3 separate regions of the Homo sapiens genome follow, and all the other regions are reported to be linked to region 1. Evidence: microRNA targets listed by miRTarBase, many of them from high-throughput screens and not tested one by one. Region 1 holds a microRNA gene; each other region holds the end of a gene's coding sequence.
Evidence for each region. The annotated mature microRNA hsa-miR-621 reads GGCUAGCAACAGCGCUUACCU and lies in region 1 at 4,207-4,227, opposite strand. An mRNA with a match to its seed (bases 2 to 7 or 8) in the 3' UTR can be bound and repressed. Matches are read on the target gene's strand: a 7mer-m8 pairs with bases 2 to 8, a 7mer-A1 pairs with bases 2 to 7 and ends in A, and an 8mer does both.

Region 2: the mRNA of FOXO3 is a reported target of hsa-miR-621. The part of its 3' UTR that is shown has no 7-base or 8-base seed match.
Region 3: miRTarBase lists GRPEL2 as a target of hsa-miR-621. Seed matches in the 3' UTR shown: 7mer-m8 at 3,808-3,814.

What each region holds. Positions count from the first base shown.
Region 1 is chr13:40,807,930-40,815,052 of GRCh38, reverse strand. MIR621 (microRNA 621) reads right to left here and starts at 4,287; the gene lies at 4,192-4,287. It overlaps SLC25A15 (solute carrier family 25 member 15), which reads right to left. Exons shown (of 7, transcript NM_014252.4): 6 at 6,457-6,615; 7 at 2,593-5,510. The coding sequence ends at 5,386. It also overlaps the pseudogene TPTE2P5.
Region 2 is chr6:108,663,484-108,670,606 of GRCh38, forward strand. It overlaps FOXO3 (forkhead box O3), which reads left to right. Exons shown (of 3, transcript NM_001455.4): 2 at 1-1,406. The coding sequence ends at 1,372. Among named protein-coding and RNA genes, the nearest start is that of LINC00222, 85 kb to the right of the region's middle. RefSeq lists a silencer at 914-1,114.
Region 3 is chr5:149,350,071-149,357,193 of GRCh38, reverse strand. It overlaps GRPEL2 (GrpE like 2, mitochondrial), which reads right to left. Exons shown (of 4, transcript NM_152407.4): 4 at 2,611-6,276. The coding sequence ends at 5,912. The region is part of intron 1 of GRPEL2-AS1 (GRPEL2 antisense RNA 1); the gene reads left to right. Among named protein-coding and RNA genes, the nearest start is that of GRPEL2-AS1, 4.0 kb to the left of the region's middle.

The DNA.
Region 1 (7,123 bases):
ATTTTCCAAGTTGTTTATTCTCTCTTCTTTTCTCTCAGGAATGCCAATGAGTCATAGACTTGGTCTCTTTACATAATCCACTATTTCTCAGAAGTTTTGCTCATTTTTTTAAATTCTTTTTTTATTTTTGTCTGAGTTGTTTAGAAGAGCGCTGAGATTCTTTCCTCAGCTTGGTCTGTTCTGCTGTTAATACTTCCAATTGTATTATAAAATTCTTATAGTGAATTTTTCAGCTATCGAAGTTCAGTTTGGTTCTTTCTTAAAATGGCTATTTCATCTTTCAGCTCTTGGATCACTTTACTGGAATCCTTGGATTAGTTTTCAGCTTTCTTCTGAATATTGATGAGCCTCCTTGGCATCCAGATCCTGTATTCTACATCTGTCATTTCAGCCATTTCCAACTGGTTAAGAACCACTGCTAGGGAGCTAGTGGACTCATTTGGAGGTAAGGGGACACTCTGGCTCTTTGAATTGCCAGAGTTCTTGTGCTGATTCTTTCTCATCTGAGGGTTGGTATTCTTTTAACTGTGGTGTAAGTTGAGTACAGTCAGTTGGCTGAATTTCTTCATGTTTTCTGAGGGCCAAGGCTCTGTGCATTTGTGGTTGAATTCTTACCTTGGTTTTACAGGAAGGTATATTAGCAAACTATTTTTGTAGTTTGCTACATCTACTGAATTCCAGTAGATGGCGCTTAGGAGTAATGGTCGGTAGACAGATCTTAGCCACTTTGCTCCTTTGGATTTCCTGGTGTTTCTGGCTGTGCTCTGTGGTGCGGTGGGAAGAGAGGTGACCACCTCATCAGGTCCGCTCCTGGGCCCTGGGGGAGCCCCTTCCAACCAATGGCACTGTGCCCGTGTTTCTTTTGTCAGGTGCACTCCCTCAGGCAGAGGCTGAGGTAGGGAGATAGGCCATCCCTTTTCCAGACAGCTGGCCCTGCATAGGGAGGCATGCCCACTGCTGTGGTAGCCCACAGGTTCATGTAACTCAGCACTCTCAGTACTCTGAGAGTGTGGGCTCCTCTCCTGCTCTAGTGCCTGCTACAGATCTCGCCTTGGCACTTCCAAGCTGCCACACTGCAGCCCCAGTGCAAGCTCAGGCTTTTTGTTCCCTCCTCAGCTTAGGGTTGGGGCAGCTGTGCTGCTGGGCCCAAGCTGGGGGCCCTGCCTGAAGAGCAGGGAGGTCAGGCAACTCAACCCGGAAGACAGTCTGGCCTCCTCTCTGTAGAATGCTGACAAAGTAATCAGGCCCTTTGTTCCCTCCCTAGCCTGGGGGAAGCAAGGGCAGGTACTGTGGTGGCAGCAATGGCAGAGGCCTGTCAGTTGTTTCTGGGACCTCCATCCCAGAGAAACACAGAGCCACCACCAACTGATCAGGCAGGAGCTGTGCTGGGGGCCCAAGCCAGGAGGCACCCTGCCCAGTGAGCAGCAGGGCCAGGGACTCGTGGAAAACAGTCTGGGCTGCCTTTCCATATGTCAGCTATAGCAGGCTGGAGGCCCATGACCGCTATTGGGCTTTTTGCTCCCTCTCCAGCCTGAGGGCAGCAGGGGCACAGGCTACGGCAGGGCAGAGGGCCTGTTGGTTACTTCTGGGAGCTCCATCCCAGAGAAATGAGGGCTGTGACTAGCTGGAGTGCTCAGGTAGTGGGTAGCATGGCTGCGATGGAGGCCCAGGCCAGTGGGCCTTGCCTGGCAAGGTGCAGTGGAAGTGAGGCCTGCAATCTGTCCGCTCCTCAGCACCATGGATATGGCCCCTATCCTAGGGGCACACGAGAGAGCCTGGCCTACCTTGTTGGCCGGACTATGGCAGCCGGGGCCATAGCAGCTCAGGGATCCACATTGGCTTGAGCAGTGGCTCTGCCCAGACTCCAAGCAGCTCTCTGTGTCAGTCTAGAACCCCAGGGTGTGTGTGTGTGTGGGTGGGGGGGGGGGGGGGGGAGGGCAGGTGGAGTCATGGAGGATCTCCTGTGCCTGGGGATTGCCAAGGTCCATGGCAGAAGTGTGAGTCCCCAGGAGCCTTCACTCACTCACACTTTCCCTGCTGTAGGGAGCCTCCCCTTGCTCTGCACCAATCCCAGGTGGACAGCTGTCCTTCCTTACTCCCCTATGCTCTCCATGACTCACCACAGCTTCCCTGATGAATCCCAACACAGCCTGCTGGATGATCAACCTGAAGAGCTTGTGTTCACTCACCACTCTGTCTCCTCTTGTGAAGGCTGCGCACACTAGCTGCTTCTAGTCAGCCATCTTGGCACTTCAGATACTTGTTTTCTTAAGTAGAATTTAGTAACTTGGAATGGAATCATCCAAAACTTAAAAGCAGACAGTTTAACTATTTTTTAAAATAGAGGGAAAGAGGTGGAGGGAGAAAGTAATTCTAGTGAGCCAAGTTCCATAACTTCAGAGCATAGAAATATTTTTGTCACCTTACCTATGGTGAAATTATTTTACATGAGGTGTCTTGCTGACAGAAAACAATGCTTGTTGCAATAAAACCACTGCCTTGAAACACTACTATACATAACTCTTTAACATTCCTGACAGTTGTTTCCCAACATGGATGTAAAGAACTTCAATGAAATTCATCAGACTCAAATATTAAGTAAATAATTTAATGATAGAACACTGAAATTTCTTTAGACACAGTATTTTCAAGTTATATTTCTGCCTGGAGTACAGATATGAAATAGCACAAACTGTACTCTGAATTAAGCAAACAGAATGAATAAAAAAAAAATATTCTCCCAACCTAAGTTTCCGTTCCTCATTTCCACTTGCCTCAGACTCTTTCTATTGAACATATCTAGTTAAATCTCTAATGGACGGCCTGTGGGAAGATTTACTGCCAACAGGGATGACTGACTTCTTTCCGGACACTGAGCAGGGGACTGTGGGCTCTGAAGCAGTTTACTTCCTGTGGAAAGCCAGTCCCATTTCTATTTTACTTCGATCCAGGCCTATTCAGATAAAGCACCACTCAGTAGCTACTGACCATTTAAGTATGGAGAGAAAAGCAAAGTAGAAAAATGGTTTTCACTTAAAGAAAAAGCAAATGGAAGACCAGCCATAATAGCTCCATGGCACAAGAGACATGACAGGGATCTCCTCCCCAGATGTCCCCTGATGTTTGTCAGCCTCTCATATCCCTGGCCCTCTGGCTTCTGGCTCTGTGATTACAGTTGCCACAGAGGATTCATGGACAGCAAAAAGCTTAAGGAACCTGGAGGTTTTGTACAACATGTACATTCTGCTGACAGAAACACATACATGGTATGGACTATTATTAAAATTGATAGCCTGCTTGCACTCAGTATACAGGCTGCTTAGGAACACTTTATTGGGAGATACCCTGCTGGTGTTGGAGCAGCACAAAATGATGAGGCTAACTTAAGTAGTGACAAGAATGATCCTCTTATACCATATGGCCAAAGAACAGCTGTCCATCCCCAAGTCTATGGGGGATCAGATGAAGTGTGGAGTTTGGTTGGTTGGTCAGTGAATTTTTGGTCAGTGAATACATACATATGGCATAGTGAAGTACAATTGCTTTTCTTTTCTTTTTTTTTTTGAGATGAAGTCTCGCTGTGTCACCCAGTCTGGAGTGCAGTGGCACAATCTCAGTTCACTGCAACCTCTGCCTCCCGGGTTCAAGCGATTCTCCTGCCTCAGCCTCCTGAGTAGCTGGGATTACAGGCACGTGCCACCACGCCCAGCTAATTTTTGTATTTTTAGTAGAGATGGGGTTTCACCATGTTGGTCAGGCTGTTCTCGAACTCCTGACCTTGTGACCCGCCCGCCTCAGCCTCCCAAAGTGCTGGGATTATAGGCGTGAGCCACTGCGCCTGGCCTACAATTGCTTTTCTTATGTTCCATTGCTTTATAAACTCATATCACATATACAGTCATCATTAAGACTTACTGACTGCAAGTACCAAATGTAGAAGCCTCCAACACTGTAAAAGCATGGCAAGACAGGCTTCAGGATGGGTCAGACCTGACATTACTCACTGTGGAGTACAAGCACTGAGTTCTTTCTAGTTCTCTCTGAGAGAGGTTCACCCACTGTCACACAATCACCAAACAGGGAAGAAGGCTTCTCTTGGCTTTGGCTCTCACTGTTCCTTGGAAGGGTTTCTGATTGGTGGAGGCAGAGCAGACAGTGAGTGGCCCAAAGTGGATTGATGGCCCCAGGCCAGGACCCAGAGACAAAAGGTAAGCGCTGTTGCTAGCCACATGGGTCTTCATCAGAGCACAGCAGCACCGCCTACCACTCAGCCCCTTCCTCAATCTAAAGCCCAAGAAGGGAAGTTCTTTGGGAGAGAAGGGAAGCTGGTAAAGGCCATGCTATTTCCCAAAGGCCTGACCCTCTGGGCCACCCCTAGCAATATAGTCAGCGTGGAATATGATCCCACCTAGAAAATGAATGGCACTATTTTAAGAGTAGAGCATCTTGGGGAAATCTAGGATACCTACTCTGAAGCTTTTACTCAAGTGTGGAAGCCACACCAGTATGCAGGTATACTGTCTTACAAATCTAGAAGGATATTTTAGTTTTCAAGCACCCCATGAACACTTTTTAAAAAATTCAACCACTGGCTGGGCATGGTGGCTCACACCAGTAATCCCAGCACTTTGGGAGGCCGAGGTGGGCGGATCACTTGAGGTCAGGAGTTCGAGACCAACCTGGACAACATGGTGAAACCTCGTCTCTACAAAAAATACCAAAAAAAATTAGCTGGACATGGTGGCGCGTACCTGTAATCCCAGCTACTCAGGAGGCTGAGGTGAGAGAATCGCTTGAACCCAGGAGGCGGAGGTTGCAGTGAGCCGAGATCGTGCCACTGCACTCCAGTCTGGGTGACAGAGTGAGACTCTGTATCAAAAAAATAAAAAATAATCAACCACTTAGAAAAGTACACACATTAAGCAGACCCTACATCTAGAATGGGTTAAGCAACCATTTATAAGCATCTTCATGAGAAATGATCACCTCTGGGTTTTTCTGATATTTGAAATAAACAAGGTACCAAACTGTATTTCCCTCAACACATAACTGTCCAAATTGCATGTACAAGTGGAGGTTTACGTAAAAGCCCTGACAGAACTATATTCCACCTTTTGAATTAGGTGCATAAGGCTACTGACCACTCTATATTTTACCAAGAGCAAGAGCGGTCACTTTTCTATTTCAGTACAATTATGGACAGAAATGATATGATGCAAAATAGAGGTTCTTCCATAAAGTTTAAGATGTAGGGTAGAAGGGAAGACAAAAAGCAAAATTCCCAAGAAATCAGAATAACTTCACACTGGTCTTGTACTCCAAGAAACCCTGAGATGAACTGTAGTCCTCAAACACCTGTGCTTGGCTCAGGCCCACCAAGACACTTCAGTATGCTTCCAACTGGTTCATCATCAACTTCCTGCTATATTCGTAGGCCAAAAAGAGTGCTCCATTGGCAGGGAATGCTCGAATCATAGTAGGTTTCAGTCCAGAATATAAGGCCGTTATTCCTAGCAAATAAAAGGGCGGTCAAAGACTGCAACAATCCCTCCTTTGGGGATACCCACGCAGCTGCATAGCATAGGTATATTTACACATGCAAACCCAGACAACAGTGCTAAAAACCAACAAGTCATAGAAGGATGCATTCCCAGCTTTTCCTAAATAGACTAATGGAAACAAGGACAAGTATCAGGTCTCCTGGCAAAACTGACTGATGCTCAGGTAACATACCCCAATTCCACGCTTGGTTAACTCTTAGTATATGGATGGGGCAGAGCTGAGGCCTGAGATGGCCAGACAGAGGCAACCATGGAGATAGAGGTGGCAGCAGCTTTGCAGCTTCACCTGGGCAGTGGCAGGAACACCAACCTTGAAGTTGGAGACCTGTGTATAGTATTAGTACTGCCCAGGGTGGTTATGAAGATTGAATTAGATAAGGGAGGTGTAAGTACTTTGTAAAACTTTACATGTTATACAAATGTAAGGGAGGATTACTATGAGTAACAGACAAGGTATCTGTCCTCTATTTGGGACACAAAGTTTCTGTGTTACTGTCCTCTTTCTTTTTACAATCAAAACAGAGTTCATATCTCAGATTTTTTTTTTTTTTTTTTTTTTGAGACAGAGTCTCGCTGTTGCCCAGGCTGGAGTGCAGTGGTGCAATCTCAGCTCACTGCAAGCTCCGCCTCCCAGGTTGACGCCATTCTCCTGTCTCAGCCTCCCGAGTAGCTGGGACTACAGGTGCCTGCCACCACGCCTGGCTGATTTTTTTGGTATTTTTAGTAGAGACGGGGTTTCACCGTGTTAGCCAGGATGGTCTCGATCTCCTGACCTCATGATCCACCTGCCTCAGCCTCCCAAAGTGCTGGGATCACAGGCATGAGCCACCACGCCCGGCCCGTATCTCAGATTTTAAGATGTATATAGATGCTTGAAAAACAGGTATTTACTCACCTTCATTTTTCACAACATTTATAAAGGTTCTGATAAATCCTGCCTGTTTTCCAGACATGGAAAGAACTTGAATTCTGGATTTGATACAATCCACTGGGTATACCGCAAGCCAGAGGCAAATCCCACCAACTCCACCACTTAACATCAAAGGTACAGGGCCTAGAGAAAAAAAAAATAGCAAATGGTATTTTGTCTCAAGAACAGCTGATGTGACATTTCCAGAGGTCAATGTAGTAATGGCTGCAGGTAGATGAAAATAAAAATGCTAATGCTACAGAATACAATTCTTTGAGGAAAACTGTCAAAGCTCTTGTTCCCAAGCTCTAAGAACACAGGGTTTTGTTTGGTAGCCCAGGTCTACTCCTGGGTCTTGCCAAGTACAAGAAGCCTTAGTGAGGGTTATATTTCGCTTGGTCACTGAGGTGTCAAGGGCTGGCCCACACGAACCAGCAGGCCTCCAGCTGAGTGGCAACCCCCTACAGTGGGGAGAAGACAGGCCAAACACAATCTATGTCTTTTTTCAACTTTCTCACTCTTAAGTATTTTAATAGCCCTGATTCTTCATTTATCATTAAAAGCCAAAATTGTTTTTATTAAACATAGCAATTAAGTCTGGGAGCTTGACTAACCACAGAATAGATTCAACACACACTGAGGGAGATGGTAA
Region 2 (7,123 bases), not on the chromosome of region 1:
TAGTCGATTCATGCGGGTCCAGAATGAGGGAACTGGCAAGAGCTCTTGGTGGATCATCAACCCTGATGGGGGGAAGAGCGGAAAAGCCCCCCGGCGGCGGGCTGTCTCCATGGACAATAGCAACAAGTATACCAAGAGCCGTGGCCGCGCAGCCAAGAAGAAGGCAGCCCTGCAGACAGCCCCCGAATCAGCTGACGACAGTCCCTCCCAGCTCTCCAAGTGGCCTGGCAGCCCCACGTCACGCAGCAGTGATGAGCTGGATGCGTGGACGGACTTCCGTTCACGCACCAATTCTAACGCCAGCACAGTCAGTGGCCGCCTGTCGCCCATCATGGCAAGCACAGAGTTGGATGAAGTCCAGGACGATGATGCGCCTCTCTCGCCCATGCTCTACAGCAGCTCAGCCAGCCTGTCACCTTCAGTAAGCAAGCCGTGCACGGTGGAACTGCCACGGCTGACTGATATGGCAGGCACCATGAATCTGAATGATGGGCTGACTGAAAACCTCATGGACGACCTGCTGGATAACATCACGCTCCCGCCATCCCAGCCATCGCCCACTGGGGGACTCATGCAGCGGAGCTCTAGCTTCCCGTATACCACCAAGGGCTCGGGCCTGGGCTCCCCAACCAGCTCCTTTAACAGCACGGTGTTCGGACCTTCATCTCTGAACTCCCTACGCCAGTCTCCCATGCAGACCATCCAAGAGAACAAGCCAGCTACCTTCTCTTCCATGTCACACTATGGTAACCAGACACTCCAGGACCTGCTCACTTCGGACTCACTTAGCCACAGCGATGTCATGATGACACAGTCGGACCCCTTGATGTCTCAGGCCAGCACCGCTGTGTCTGCCCAGAATTCCCGCCGGAACGTGATGCTTCGCAATGATCCGATGATGTCCTTTGCTGCCCAGCCTAACCAGGGAAGTTTGGTCAATCAGAACTTGCTCCACCACCAGCACCAAACCCAGGGCGCTCTTGGTGGCAGCCGTGCCTTGTCGAATTCTGTCAGCAACATGGGCTTGAGTGAGTCCAGCAGCCTTGGGTCAGCCAAACACCAGCAGCAGTCTCCTGTCAGCCAGTCTATGCAAACCCTCTCGGACTCTCTCTCAGGCTCCTCCTTGTACTCAACTAGTGCAAACCTGCCCGTCATGGGCCATGAGAAGTTCCCCAGCGACTTGGACCTGGACATGTTCAATGGGAGCTTGGAATGTGACATGGAGTCCATTATCCGTAGTGAACTCATGGATGCTGATGGGTTGGATTTTAACTTTGATTCCCTCATCTCCACACAGAATGTTGTTGGTTTGAACGTGGGGAACTTCACTGGTGCTAAGCAGGCCTCATCTCAGAGCTGGGTGCCAGGCTGAAGGATCACTGAGGAAGGGGAAGTGGGCAAAGCAGGTCAGTGCCGAATGCTATGGCATAAAAATAACAATATGGGGATGAGGGGGGATCTCTGGGGGAGCCTGTCTTCTCTTTACTTTGAACTTTATTCCACACTGAAAACCATGGAGCAGTGGTGCACATAATATGGCTCCCAGCCAGTTCCATCTCAGGGTTTTACCTGCAAACCAAATAGGGCTGTCAGGTGCCCCCCTTCCCCCGCACAGTTTGCTGATAGTTCAGAAATCTACTGCTCGTGAAGAGAACACGTACGCATTCAGAGATCGCATTCTTTTTTTGCATCCAGTTGTCCTCACTGGCCTGTGACGCAGGTTGCCCTACTTGATGGATGGATGAGAAGAGAAGGAGAGGGATGGGAAGCTTGGGTCGTACTTCAGGGTTAAGGATCCCAGCCAAAGGGCTTTCCTAGAAAGACTCTCTGGTCCGTCACCGCTTTTGTCAATCTTCAGTGTTACATGTTCTTCATCTTTTTTTCCTTGTAAAGTAATGATCGGCAGGTACTTCTAATTTGCCTGCAGAATATGTATTCTAGACTCTTTCATATATGAATATTTCTAACAGAAGCAAAATCTGTTAATTATTCTTTATCTTAGTACTAAGCATCTTTATTAGCTAGCACTCAAGAGCTAAACCTTTAAAAAAGTAAGAGGCCAGGCACAGTGTCTCACGCCTATAATCCCACAACTATGGGAGACTGAAGCAGGAATTGCTTGAGGCTAGGAGTCAGAGACCAGCATGGGCAACATAGCAAGACTCTGTCTCTACAGAAAACTTAAAAAATTAGCTGGGTGTGGTGACACATACCTGTAGCCCCTGCTTCTCAGGAGAATCCCTTGTGCCCAGGAGTTTGAGGCTGCAGTGAGTCATGATCGTGCCACTGCACTCCATCCTGGGTGGTAAAGCAAGAACCTATCTCTTAGAAAAAAAAAAAAAAAAAGCCAAAAAATTAATTTGAAAACACAGGTGTTTGTATGAGGGAGTACTTACTCGTGTGCTTCTGCTTGTTCACCAAACTATAAATGATATCAGCAGTTTCCAAACATAGAGTGACACAGGTTGTGAATGGTGATGGAGATTTTTTCAATTGTGGCATTTTAATGTTCTCAGAACCACAAAGATCAGGCAGTGTGATGTAAGAAAAAGCATTTGATTGAAATCAGGAATTGAGGTTCAGGCCCACTTCTACCACTTTCTTGCTACCACTATGGTTGTGTCTTAGGTCTCTGAGTCTCAACTTCCAGTTTTATAAAATGAGGATAATAGCCCCCATTACTTCACAGGGTTATTACAAGAATCAAATGCACTAAAGCATGTGAAACTGCAGTAGGCTGAAATATGTACCATGCAACTAGGTATACTGACAAATGGGCAAGCAGGTAGCCCAGAGAGGTTAAGTAGTTTGCCCAAGGTTACAGAGCTAGGTTGATTTCTTTTTTTTTCTTTTTCTTTTTCTTTTTTTTTGAGATGGAGTCTTGCTCTGTCTCCCAGGCTGGAGTACAGTGGCGCGATCTCGGCTCACTGCAAGCTCCACCTTCCAGGTTCACGCCATTCTCCTGCCTCAGCCTCCTGAGTAGCTGGGACTACAGGCGCCCGCCACCACGCCTGGCTAATTTTTTTTTTTTTTTAATTTTTAGTAGAGATGGGGTTTCACTGTGTTCACCAGGATGGTCTCGATCTCCTGACCTTGTGATCCGCCCGCCTCAGCCTCCCAAAGTGCTGGGATTACAGGCGTGAGCCACCGTGCCCGGCCTAGATTCATTTCTTAAATGGCTTGAACCCCCATAGTAGTTCTTCCTTATTCTCTCTAGCTGGTTAGAAAAAAAGCGGGGAGGGGAGGGAAGTGCCCTGAACTGGAGTCAAAGTAGCAGATGATAGACAAGCTTTCCCTAAAAACTCTCCTCCTCAAGAAGTAAGATGAACACTGGGATCTTCTACCAACAGGTTTGCACCCCTAGCCACCTCGATGTTAACAGGTTCTGTTCCGTGCCCCAGCCCTTTTGCTTTGTTTTGTTTTAGTCTCAGCAAGCTACTTACAGGCTTCTTTAAGTGGTGTAAAAAGCAAGGGAATTCAAAGCTGTAAAAACTTGAGCCTTGTTTAACCCTCTGCCATGATGAAGGACTTAACAAGGGTCTCCTATGGTGAGCTCACTCCAGCTCACGGGTGGTTGCAGAAAGGGGAATGTTAAGAGTGTTGTGATGCTAAAGCCTCTCAACTTTCTCAGGCCTAAGAGACCCCTAATGGAACTCAGATATCTGATTTCAGTCATTTAATAGCCCTTGAGATGGTGAAAAGACTGTAATGGAAGCTAAGTAGGGTGGTAGTACTTCCATGCCAGCCAGCTCAGTTCCATACCAGAACTTGGGCTAGTGGAGATTTGACTTCAGAAATGTAGATATTTGGCCTTTAGAAGACTAGTTTGTCTTCCTTTAAGGAGAAGAATATGGAAGATTTGTCTTTAGAAATGTAGATGTTTGGCTTTTAAAAGAATAAATGGTTTGTCTTCCTTTAAAAATAGGCTTTTAAAGACACAAGTAAGTTTTAATTTGAGTGTAATTGTAAGGAGGCCACTTTCTAGTTCGTTGGAAAATATGTGTTCAGAAGACAATGTAGTATCAGTTTTTGTCTGATTTTTCAAGTGTTGGTTTCCCTTTTGGTTGAACAGCAGATCTTTCTCGTATATGTGTAATTCTAAAGGATTGTACAGAAAATTAAGGGAGATCTAAATACTTAGATTTTTAAAGTTTATCTGGTGAACTCTGATTTTGGTGATGATAATAAATGACTGCATTGAGGATAATGCATTTCATTGTTATATCCTAATGAAGCTTTAGGGTCATCTTCGCCTCAGAATATTTTGGGGGAGGTTGTTTTGAGAAGATAACTTCTTCAGCTAAAAATGAAAAGTCACCAAATTTTCCTGAAAGTAGACTAGCTCAGTATGACCACAGAGCATTTAAAGAACCATCCAAAGGACAGTGGGGGCTGTGAGGGGATCTAGTTTCTGGTTTAGGATTTCCATTTTTGCTTAGAATCCATTGTTCTTTCAGCAGCCAGGAGCACATGCAACCTGAAGTGTATTTTTTACTTTAAAACTTAACTGTGACTGTCACTTCATTGAAGACTCTCCTAAATTCACAGAACGAGGCTGAGGTCAGACTCTGACACCCTGCTTCTCTCAAATTAACTGTCCCAGCTTCCCAAGAGTTGCTCTCTAATAACTTTCTTGGTTTAACTTCTTAGTGTTTCTCCAGACTGAATTCCTGGCTTGCTCACAGAAGAAGGTCATGTGATGCTGAATCTGAGCCGCCTTGTGTTAATGGAGCGGTCTGCTCAGTTGACAGGCAGTCTTGCTGGGGAGCTGCAGCAAGATGCTTCTCTGGCGGGCTGGGTGTTTCACACGTCATTCATTTTAGACCACGTGTAGAATTCTTTGACCCTTAGGTCTATCTGGAAAAGAAAAAATAGCCATACTTTTTTGGAGGGCTGGCTGCTGGGTCGTGAAGGGCACTGTGTTCTCTCAGGTGTTCATAAAGCTTGGTGCATGTGCTTACAGTTGGTGGCAGAGATGGTCATGAGCTGGTGTGGTGCTGCAAGCTCGAGCTTCCGGTAAGCCTTCTTGAGTTCGACATGTGTCCTCTCTGAGGGAAACCAGCTTCAGTCTCACCTTAATTTGATATCAAAGATGCCTGCATTCACAAACTTTCATTCATCTTCATCTTTTGACATTTGGAGACACCATTAGGGAGCAGCCCAATATTTAGTTTAAAGTACTTTACATAAAGACTGGGAAGCATCCACCAGCAAAAGCCCAGATGGAGAGGGGAGGGGTGGTTCACTTCTTGTCTCTGCCACATCACTCAATCTTGTAGAATATTAGGTTTCTCATTTGTCAAAAGAAGACAGCCTCATCAAGTTTTAAAGGTGCATAGTATGTATAATTTTAAACTTGAAGACCGGGCGCAGTGGCTCACGCTTGTAATCCCAGCACTTTGGGAGGCCGAGACGGGTGGATCATGAGGTCAGGAGATCGAGACGGTGAAACCCCGTCTCTACTAAAAATACAAAAAAATTAGCCGGGCGTGGTGGCGGGCGCCTGTAGTCCCAGCTACTCGGAGAGGCTGAGGCAGGAGAATGGCGTGAACCCAGGAGGCGGAGCTTGCAGTGAGCTGAGACTGCGCCACTGCACTGCAGCCTGGGTGACAGAGCAAGACTCCGTCTCAAAAAATAAAAAAAATAAAAACTAAATAAACTTGAACCCTAACATTTTGTCTGTGAAATGGACCTGGTGAAGTCTATGTTATGATACAGAGCTAGAAAGAAATAGTGGTGTACTAGTGTGGCATCAGCAGGCTGCAGTATTGGAAGCCATTTGGAATTTACGTGTAGGCTACTTCCCAAAAGGAGTAAATCTTTGATGCTTGTTTGACTGATGTTTGAATGCTGTGATTCTAGTATGTCTTTAAAATTTATGTTGGGGATAGGACTAATTCTAACCAAATACAGGTAATATAGACTGTATCGTGTTTTTTATTGATGTAGATATTTCTGTTTTAGGGAATGTAACATCTGATAAATATGAATCTGTTATGAATTACCTGGAGAATATATTCTGCTATTTGTACCTATGACTATAGTCTTCGGTTATAGTATGCTAGCCTGAAGAATTCTGCATCTTCAGGGATCTTTATTCTTACCTTTTAAAAAAAGCCGAAAGTCTGAACTGTCATTCAGGGAGAGAATGTTGGGATCTTTTTAGTGTCGATGAGCGCGAGAGAAAATTGATATGGCCATAAAAAGGGGTTTTCTTTGCAGAGGCTGGTACACTGGCTACATACGCTGTTTTTTCCTGGAAAGCAGTGACATTTAGCATGAAGGCTGCTCTTCCTGGGCCTGTTGGTTTTATAAAATGCACCTGTTTTCACCTCTGGCCAGCCTGCTAAGCATGGAGACAGAGCCTGAGTGGCTCCTCCTTCAAGCAGTTGTATTTATAAACAGCTTTCTGGAAGGTCTCTTCTGTCCAGAGAGCTCATGTAGAACACAAACAGGGTGAAAATCACCAGAATTACTATTTATAACTTAGAGTGTTCATAATGCTCAGCAGCATCTTGTAAACAACATTTTCTATCAGTAGAGTCTTCCCCCAGGGGCCACCTGTGCTTCTCACAGGCTTATCTTTCTATATGGAGATGGGAGAAGGGGGCTTTCTGGGATCCGCTTTGCCATTGCTGGAGAGATTGCCTCCTAGAGGTCCTCCTTGGTCTTGGGCCAAGTGGGAGAATGTTTGCTGACTGCTTTCTCTTCCCTGACTTGGAGACACATATTTACTGGACTTTCATCCCAAGATGGAGATTCTCCACCTTGCAGGAGACACCACCTGCTTCACCCTGGTTTTGTTGATGTGTTCATTGAATTTCAAAGTATTGCTTTCCCCAATCCTCCAAATTGTTTTGAAGTTTAAAGTTTCAGAAACTAAAATGAATTTAAAATGTGTTTTGCAAATTAGTATTTAGAGGTCCTGTAAGTCAATGTTTCTCAAAATGTTTCTCGGAATACTAGATCCTCAAGATAGTCATAGATCCTCAAGATAGTGAAATGGAAAATGGATTCTGTGGTCAAATAAGTTTAAGAAATACCATGTTAAACAAAGAGAAATTGCATTATTTCCAAGAGAACTTCTCAGAGCCTTAAAGGTTAATACACATTATGAACTTTT
Region 3 (7,123 bases), not on the chromosome of region 1:
TCCCAGCATTTTGGAAGGTCAGGCGGGAGGATCGCTTAGGCCAGCAGTTTGAGACCAGCCTGGGCAACATAATGAGACTCTGAGACCCCGTCTCTTAAAAAAAAAAAATTCGCCAGGAGTGGTGGTGCACACCTGTAGTCCTAGCTATTCAGGAGGCAGAGGTGGGAGGCTTGAGACCGGTAGTTTGAGGTTACAGTGTTCTATGATTGTGCCACTGCACTCCAGCCTGAGTGACAAGAGTCCCTGTCTTTAAAAATAAATAAATATATAAAAATAAATGAAATCCATATTTACTCAGTGAGATTATGGCTAAAATAAGAAACTGGGCCGGGCACAGTGGCTCATGCCTGTAATCCCAGCAGTTTGGGAGGCCGAGGTGGGCAGATCACTTGAGGTCAGGAGTTCGAGACCAGCTCGGCCATCATGGTGAAACCTCATCTCTGCTAAAATGCAAAAATTAGCTGGGCTTGGTGGTGTGCGCCTGTAATCCCAGCTACTCGGGAGGCTGGGGCAGGAGAATCGCTTGAACCTGGGAGGCACATGTTGCAGTGAGCCGAGATTGTACCACTGCACTCCACCGTGGGTGACAGAGCGAGACTCTGACTCAAACAAAAACAAAAACAAAAAACTGAAGTGATTCAGAGAATGGTGAAAGAGCTTATAGCTGGGGTTCTAACTCAGCACTGAGACTTAATTTACTTGGGCCAAACTGGATTACTACTAGTAAACTGGTAGATGAATAATCATGCATTTGTCATAATCTTAAACTTTTTTTTTTGGCAATGTTTGTGTCAGGATGCAACACCTTTTAAGTTCATTTCCAAAGGTTCAAGATACTCCCTTAAACAGTTTTTAAAACAAGCACTCATTGACCACTATGTGCCAAATTCTCTTATGAACTTATTCTGATTCTTGTCATTTTTTTGTAGGGTAAATCATGTTAGTGTTCAAATTCATCTTCTTGACTATACTTTGCTTGTAATTTTAGGGTCCTTTGTAACTCTTAAATCTAGAGCTGTTTTTTTCTGTTAGGAAGCCCTTCCAACCCTACTAGCCCATTGACAATGTGTGCGCTCATCAACATTGTAAGAGAGGTTCGAAAGAGCTGATAAGGGAAAAGCAAGTAGGCACAATTCTTGTGGCACAAAGGTGCCAGACTGGGAATGCAGTGGGGTGACTGTATCATTTTATCTGCTGTTGTGTAACAAACCATTAAAAAATGTAGTGGCTTAAAGTAACAGTCATCTGTTTTGCTCACACTACACCTCAGGCAGGACTCAGTGAGATCAGCTCATCTGTTCCATGTGGTATCATTTGGGGCTGCTCCACTGGGTGTGGGAGGATCCACCTTCAAGATGGCTCACTGGCTGGCAAGACAGTGCTGGCTCAGCTGAAAGCTCAACCAGGGCCCTCAGTTCCATTCCACAGGCTACTTCAGTTTGCTCTTGGCACGATGGTAAGGTTCCAGGGGTGAGCATCCCAAGACAGGAAGTGGGGATACCAGTTTCTTAAGATCTGGGTCCAGAAAATGGCAGTGTCACTTCCACTGTATTCTATTGGTCAAGCAATCACAAAGCTCCAAGGAAACTCAAGAATGGACATGGGCCCTACTCAACAAAGGTGTCAAGAAATTCTGGAGCCATGTTTTAAAACTACAGTGAACTTGAGAGCATGGACATCTGAGTGGATAGGAATAAGAATATACTCACTGACTAGCACTGGGAATATGGGACACATGGTTTATGGAGCTACAGTGTACAGACAGTATTGGAAAGATAATGAAAACGCAAGACCAAATCCCAGGGAAGGCTGGCCCAACAGAGGGCCATTCAGCCAGGAGTCTAGGTATATGGAAGCTAGCTGAGAAGCAGAGGTAAAGACAAGGCCAGGCAGTCACAAGGTGGGAAGGACATGGGGAAGCTGAAGGTCAGAACAAGGCCAAGTGTCTGTAATCTGGTTAGGAGAATAGTCAGCAGTAGTCAAAGGAAATAAGACACCTAGAACCAAAAGGCGAACCCAAGAAAACAAGTCAATGCCAGAAAAGAAGGCAGAAATAGGGCTGGGAACAGTGGCTCAGGCCTGTGAGCCCAGCACTTTGGGAAGCCGAGGCAGGTGGATCGCCTGAAGTCAGGAGTTCAAGACCAGCCTGGCCAACGTGGTGAAACTGTCTCTACTCAAAATACAAAAAATTAGGCGTGGTGGCAGGTGCCTGTAATCCCAGCTACTCGGGAGGCTGAGGCAGGAGAATTGCTTGAACCTGGGAGGCGGAGGTTGCGCTGAGCTGAGATCGCGCCATTGCACTCTAGCCTGGGCAACAAGAGCAAAACTCCATCTCAAAAAAAAAAAAAAAAAAAAAAGGCAGAAATAGGAATCCAGATCTAAGAAATATGTAGCAATCAGAAAGAGGCAAGTCAAGGAGGAATAAAACAGACAAGACTTCAACACGGAGGCAGGGTGGGGAAAGCCCACAGTGCATCCACTTGGCTATGCTGCTATGAGATCTCAAGGTACCTCTCCAGAGCATCAACAAGGCAGGTCAGCAGTCATGAAGTGACCATAATGTTCCATATACAATACGAATAGGCAGACAAAGACTCTAAACACCAGAGCTGCAGTTATTTCAATTCAGGTTTTATTAAAGTTGTTTCTGAATATTTTTTCTCAGTGATCCTTGTTCTGATGAATATTACATTTCATCCTTAGTTTTGCTCATTTGATTTTGCTTTAGTGTTTAAAGAACTTTTATTTATCAAATCCTTTGCCATGAATGAGAGCACCAAATAACATATCAATACCCAACTGCCTGATTCCTTTACAGCAGTAAGAAAAGTCAGTAAAACATTTGTACAGTCCAAGTACTACAACACCAAGATCCCCTCTTCAAGTGAGAGTGAGCCAAAGCTTCCTTAGTATCATCTCAAGTCAATGTCTTTTCACTATACCATTAAGATGAAAATAACTAAGAGCACTGACACAATTTTCTTGCTCTTTCCATCTAAAAATGTGGGTTTCCTGTGGTGTGGCTAATTTTAAAAACCAGAAAATGGAAGGAAAATAAGTCAGTGAATGATTAGCTTACAAGTTTTTTCTACTCATCATTAACCAGTCTTCCCTTTTCCCTAGACTTTAGACAGCCATAAAAAGGCAGGAAAAACAATGTGCATAATAAAAAAATAAAAATAAATATCTGAGCACCTACTGTAGTAGGCATTTAACACATTTCACTTAATCCTCACAACGCTGTGAAAGAATTATTATAATCATTTTACGAATAAAGAAACAGGCTCAGAAGGGTGAAATCACTGGTGCCTAAAGTCCTGCAGGTGACTGAGCTGAGATTTAAGTTCAAGCCTATGCTCTAATATGCTGCTTTGGCTCCCCAAAGCCCTTCAGCTTGAGATTCTTACTACTATAGCTTCATCTTCTAATTCTAAATTTACACTTTTAAGTCTGCAAAACTACTGAATAACAAAAGAACCTAAAATTATTCTGAATTTACTTGCCAAAACGGGAGGTGTAATAGACCATTAGAAAATTCTTCTAGCCTGGACAATATAGTGAGACCCCGCCTGTAAAAAACAACCAACCAACCAAAAAAAAAAAACCAAAAACCAAAAACCAAAAACCAAAAAACAAAACTAGCCAGTCATGGTGGTGCACTTGCCTGTGGTCCTGGCTACTTGGTAGGCTGAGGTGGGAGGATCACTTGAGCTCATTAGGTAGAGACATCTCTTTAGGTAATCATAACATTCCATACCTAAAATTATTGTTAATTGTAATTAATGTTAATTCTAACTGGTAATGATAGCTAGCAATAAAAAAACACACAGAGAGTAATTACAATCAGCTCATTTTCTTATTGTCACCATCTGTCAAATCTCACAGAATGGAAGGCAAAAAAAGACAACTTCCTATTGTGAACCTTGATTGTTCATTAAATTTACAATATATACTTAGTGGAATGCCAAAAGATGTTCTGGTTTTACAAGCTTAACCACCAGTCTTTTGATTGCATTTTAAAAGTGCATATTTACTTGTTTTTTAAGGGTCTAAATCTGATGAAGATGGTAAGGCCCACAAGGAGATGGCTTTATTGATAAGTTTGTGTGCTGTCTTAGAATTATCTATAATGTATAAGAGGTTAACTTTCCACCACTCCACTGAATGTCATAGAGTTCCAGTGGAAAATGAATTTTATTTTATTTTATAACTTCAACCTAAACCTATATAATCTAGACATCCAACAACATCTGATTGTCTGCTGGAGACTTCATTGCATGCCCATTAATCTTAAATGGAGACTTAATTGCATGCCCATTAATCTTAAATGATTGACATTAATATCTAGTTGTTCTTCATTCATACTCTCACTGGAATTTAGTCAATAGTTTAGAGATTATTTTCCTTGTGTCCAGTCCTAAAAAGACTAGATTTTCATACTTCAGAAGCAGAAAGGGTGAGATTTGATCATTAAGGCCTCTTCCAACATTAAAATATCCATAATTGACTGCCTTCCTAAAATCTGACTGATGTATCATTCATTAAGTCGTTTATTGGACAAATCTTTTACAGAACACCAGCTATAAGACTGAAAAAAAACCACATAGGCCCATTAATTCTAGAGGTTAATATATAAAAGGTGAGCTCAATGTTTACACAGATGTGACTTAACAGATACAAAGAATAGGAAATAGAGCTTGTCAATATAACAGAGGTAGTGATTTGTGAGTACCAACTTAAAAAAAAAAACAACAAAAAAACTTTGCGGGCGCAGTGGTGAACGCCTGTAGTCCTAGCTACTTGGCAGGCTGAGGCAGGATTGCTTGGGCCCAGGAGTTGGAGGTCAGCCTGGGCAACACAGGAAAAAAAAAAAAAATTGCCAAGAGGAGAGAATACTTATGTTAAGTGTTCTTATCGCAAAAAGTAACATAAATAGAGCCAGAGGAAACTTAAAAAAAAATTCAGCATTAACTATTAATAAATGAAATGAGAAATCATGGGAACCTAACACTTTTGTCCTGATCACCACCTCCCATCATTTAATAAAGGATTATAAGGTAAAATTGACAAAAGGGCAGAGGAGTAAAGGCTGGTGGAATAAGTTGTAGGTAAATTACCCAAATAGAGCCATCTGGGTCATTAGCTGTTAGTGTTGCCTCAGTTTGCCTGAAATGATTATATGACAAGGAGGCTGAAAATAATTTGAAGAGCAAAGACAGCACAAGGCTTTTTGGCCATTCTTGCTTGAAAGGGTCCTGGGTATCTCAAATTTCGATGCTCCTTGCCTTCCAAGTCTCATCTAGACCTTTAGCCCCTGCAAATGGGGATGAGAAAGGGGTGGGTATGGGACAATGATGTGAGCATAAAGCCTATCTAGTTGGGATTACAAGAACAAAAGATGGCTAAAAGGAAAAAAACAAAACAAAAGGTAAAGTCCTGAAAATCTATGTGTATAAAAATCAATCCAAATGATCTAAATTTATACGACCACGAAGCTTTATCCTCTAAGTACCCAAATGTTGAACCAATCCCTACCATCTCCTTTTTCCACAAAATACAAGATACTACACAATTCCTGTTATAGAGACCGCTAGGAAGAAACATGTAGTTGAAAACCCATAGTTAAAAGGATTTTGGATTCAAATTTATCACAGTACCAATTTTCCTAAACATGTTTTGATAAAGGCCATTGGAACACCTGTCACACTGTTCAAATGCCCAATGGTAAGACTTCTGATGAGACCAAACAGGTCACATTAAATCAATAGAATATCTTAGAAATAAAGCCAATATGACTAAATCCAAAACATATCACATGAAGTACCTCATGTACAATACAAACCTAGTTTAATAAATAAAAGAAACATAGGTGACTGCGCTCTGGGAGAACATCCAGTTCCTGATGGCCTCTTCACAGTCTTCTCTGAGACTCCACTGCCACTTCCACTCGGGCAAGCCTAATGGTGCGGCCATGAAGTTTGTAGCCATCTTGTCTTACTAATGCCACGGTGCCAGGCTGCACCCCAACACCAGCTGGCACATGACAGATGAGTTCATGCTCATGGGGGTCATATTTGTCACCAATGGGTGTCAGTTTCTCCAGGCCATGCTTGGCAAACACACTTTTCAGCTTTGCTTCTAAAAGCAACAACCCTCGGAAGACCTTCTCCAGAGTGAGCTTTTGGTCCTCAGGCTCCGATTCTTCAGAAATGCACTCTGTAGTCTTCTCCAAAATGTCAGCCACCTCCACCAAGTCCTTACAGAAACTCTGGATTCCTGCAGAGAAGCCAGTTATTTTTATTGTTTGTGAGGAAATCACTCTGCCCGTGGGCATAGAGTTTGGGTAAGGCCTAGATAGACGGCTAGTATGCTGAGTAGTCCAGCAAGTGGAAAGGTTGCCACACAGGACTCAGAGATCATCACTGATTACCACCCCAACCCAACTGACAAGTCAGTGTCTCTCTCAGAAGGCATATATGACTAGGAACTTGACTAGGAAATGGAAAAGACAGAACCCAAGAACTAGGTAAGACTATACACAACAGGCTTAAACCTGTTCTTTAAAAACAACTATTTTTATGTACATGAATTTTTGTTGCTATTTGCTTGTAGTATTATGTACATTTTGAAAATTCCTGCCTGTCCCAGTTGTGCTATGGCATACATTCTCAACAGGGACAAGACATTAATATTTCACGAGAAGGGCACTAACAATAAAAAAAGAAAGTCAACAACACTATGCTAAGGGGTGTCATGAATGGTTTATTCTTGAGGACTGGCTAAATAGGAACACGAAAGTAAGACACAGCCATAGATGAGGTAAGTTGGCTATGAAGTTGCTAGAGATGGACCACAAAACTTGTCTGATTTTTTAAAAGAGTCATACGAACTGTTACAAGACAAAAGTAAATTCAGTTGTTGAGAAATCCCATTACGCTCAATTCTAAAACTTGATTTTTCTTACAGAAATGAGGGCAAGAAAGTCATCATTAGAGAGGTCTATGACACGATACCAAAGCTCCAGTGGGGGCTGGTGAGAGTCAAGGACTTTGTTAATCTGACTTTAATCCAGGGACAGGCTTAAGGCCTTGTGTCAAAACAGGCTAGGTCTTTGACTTTGAAG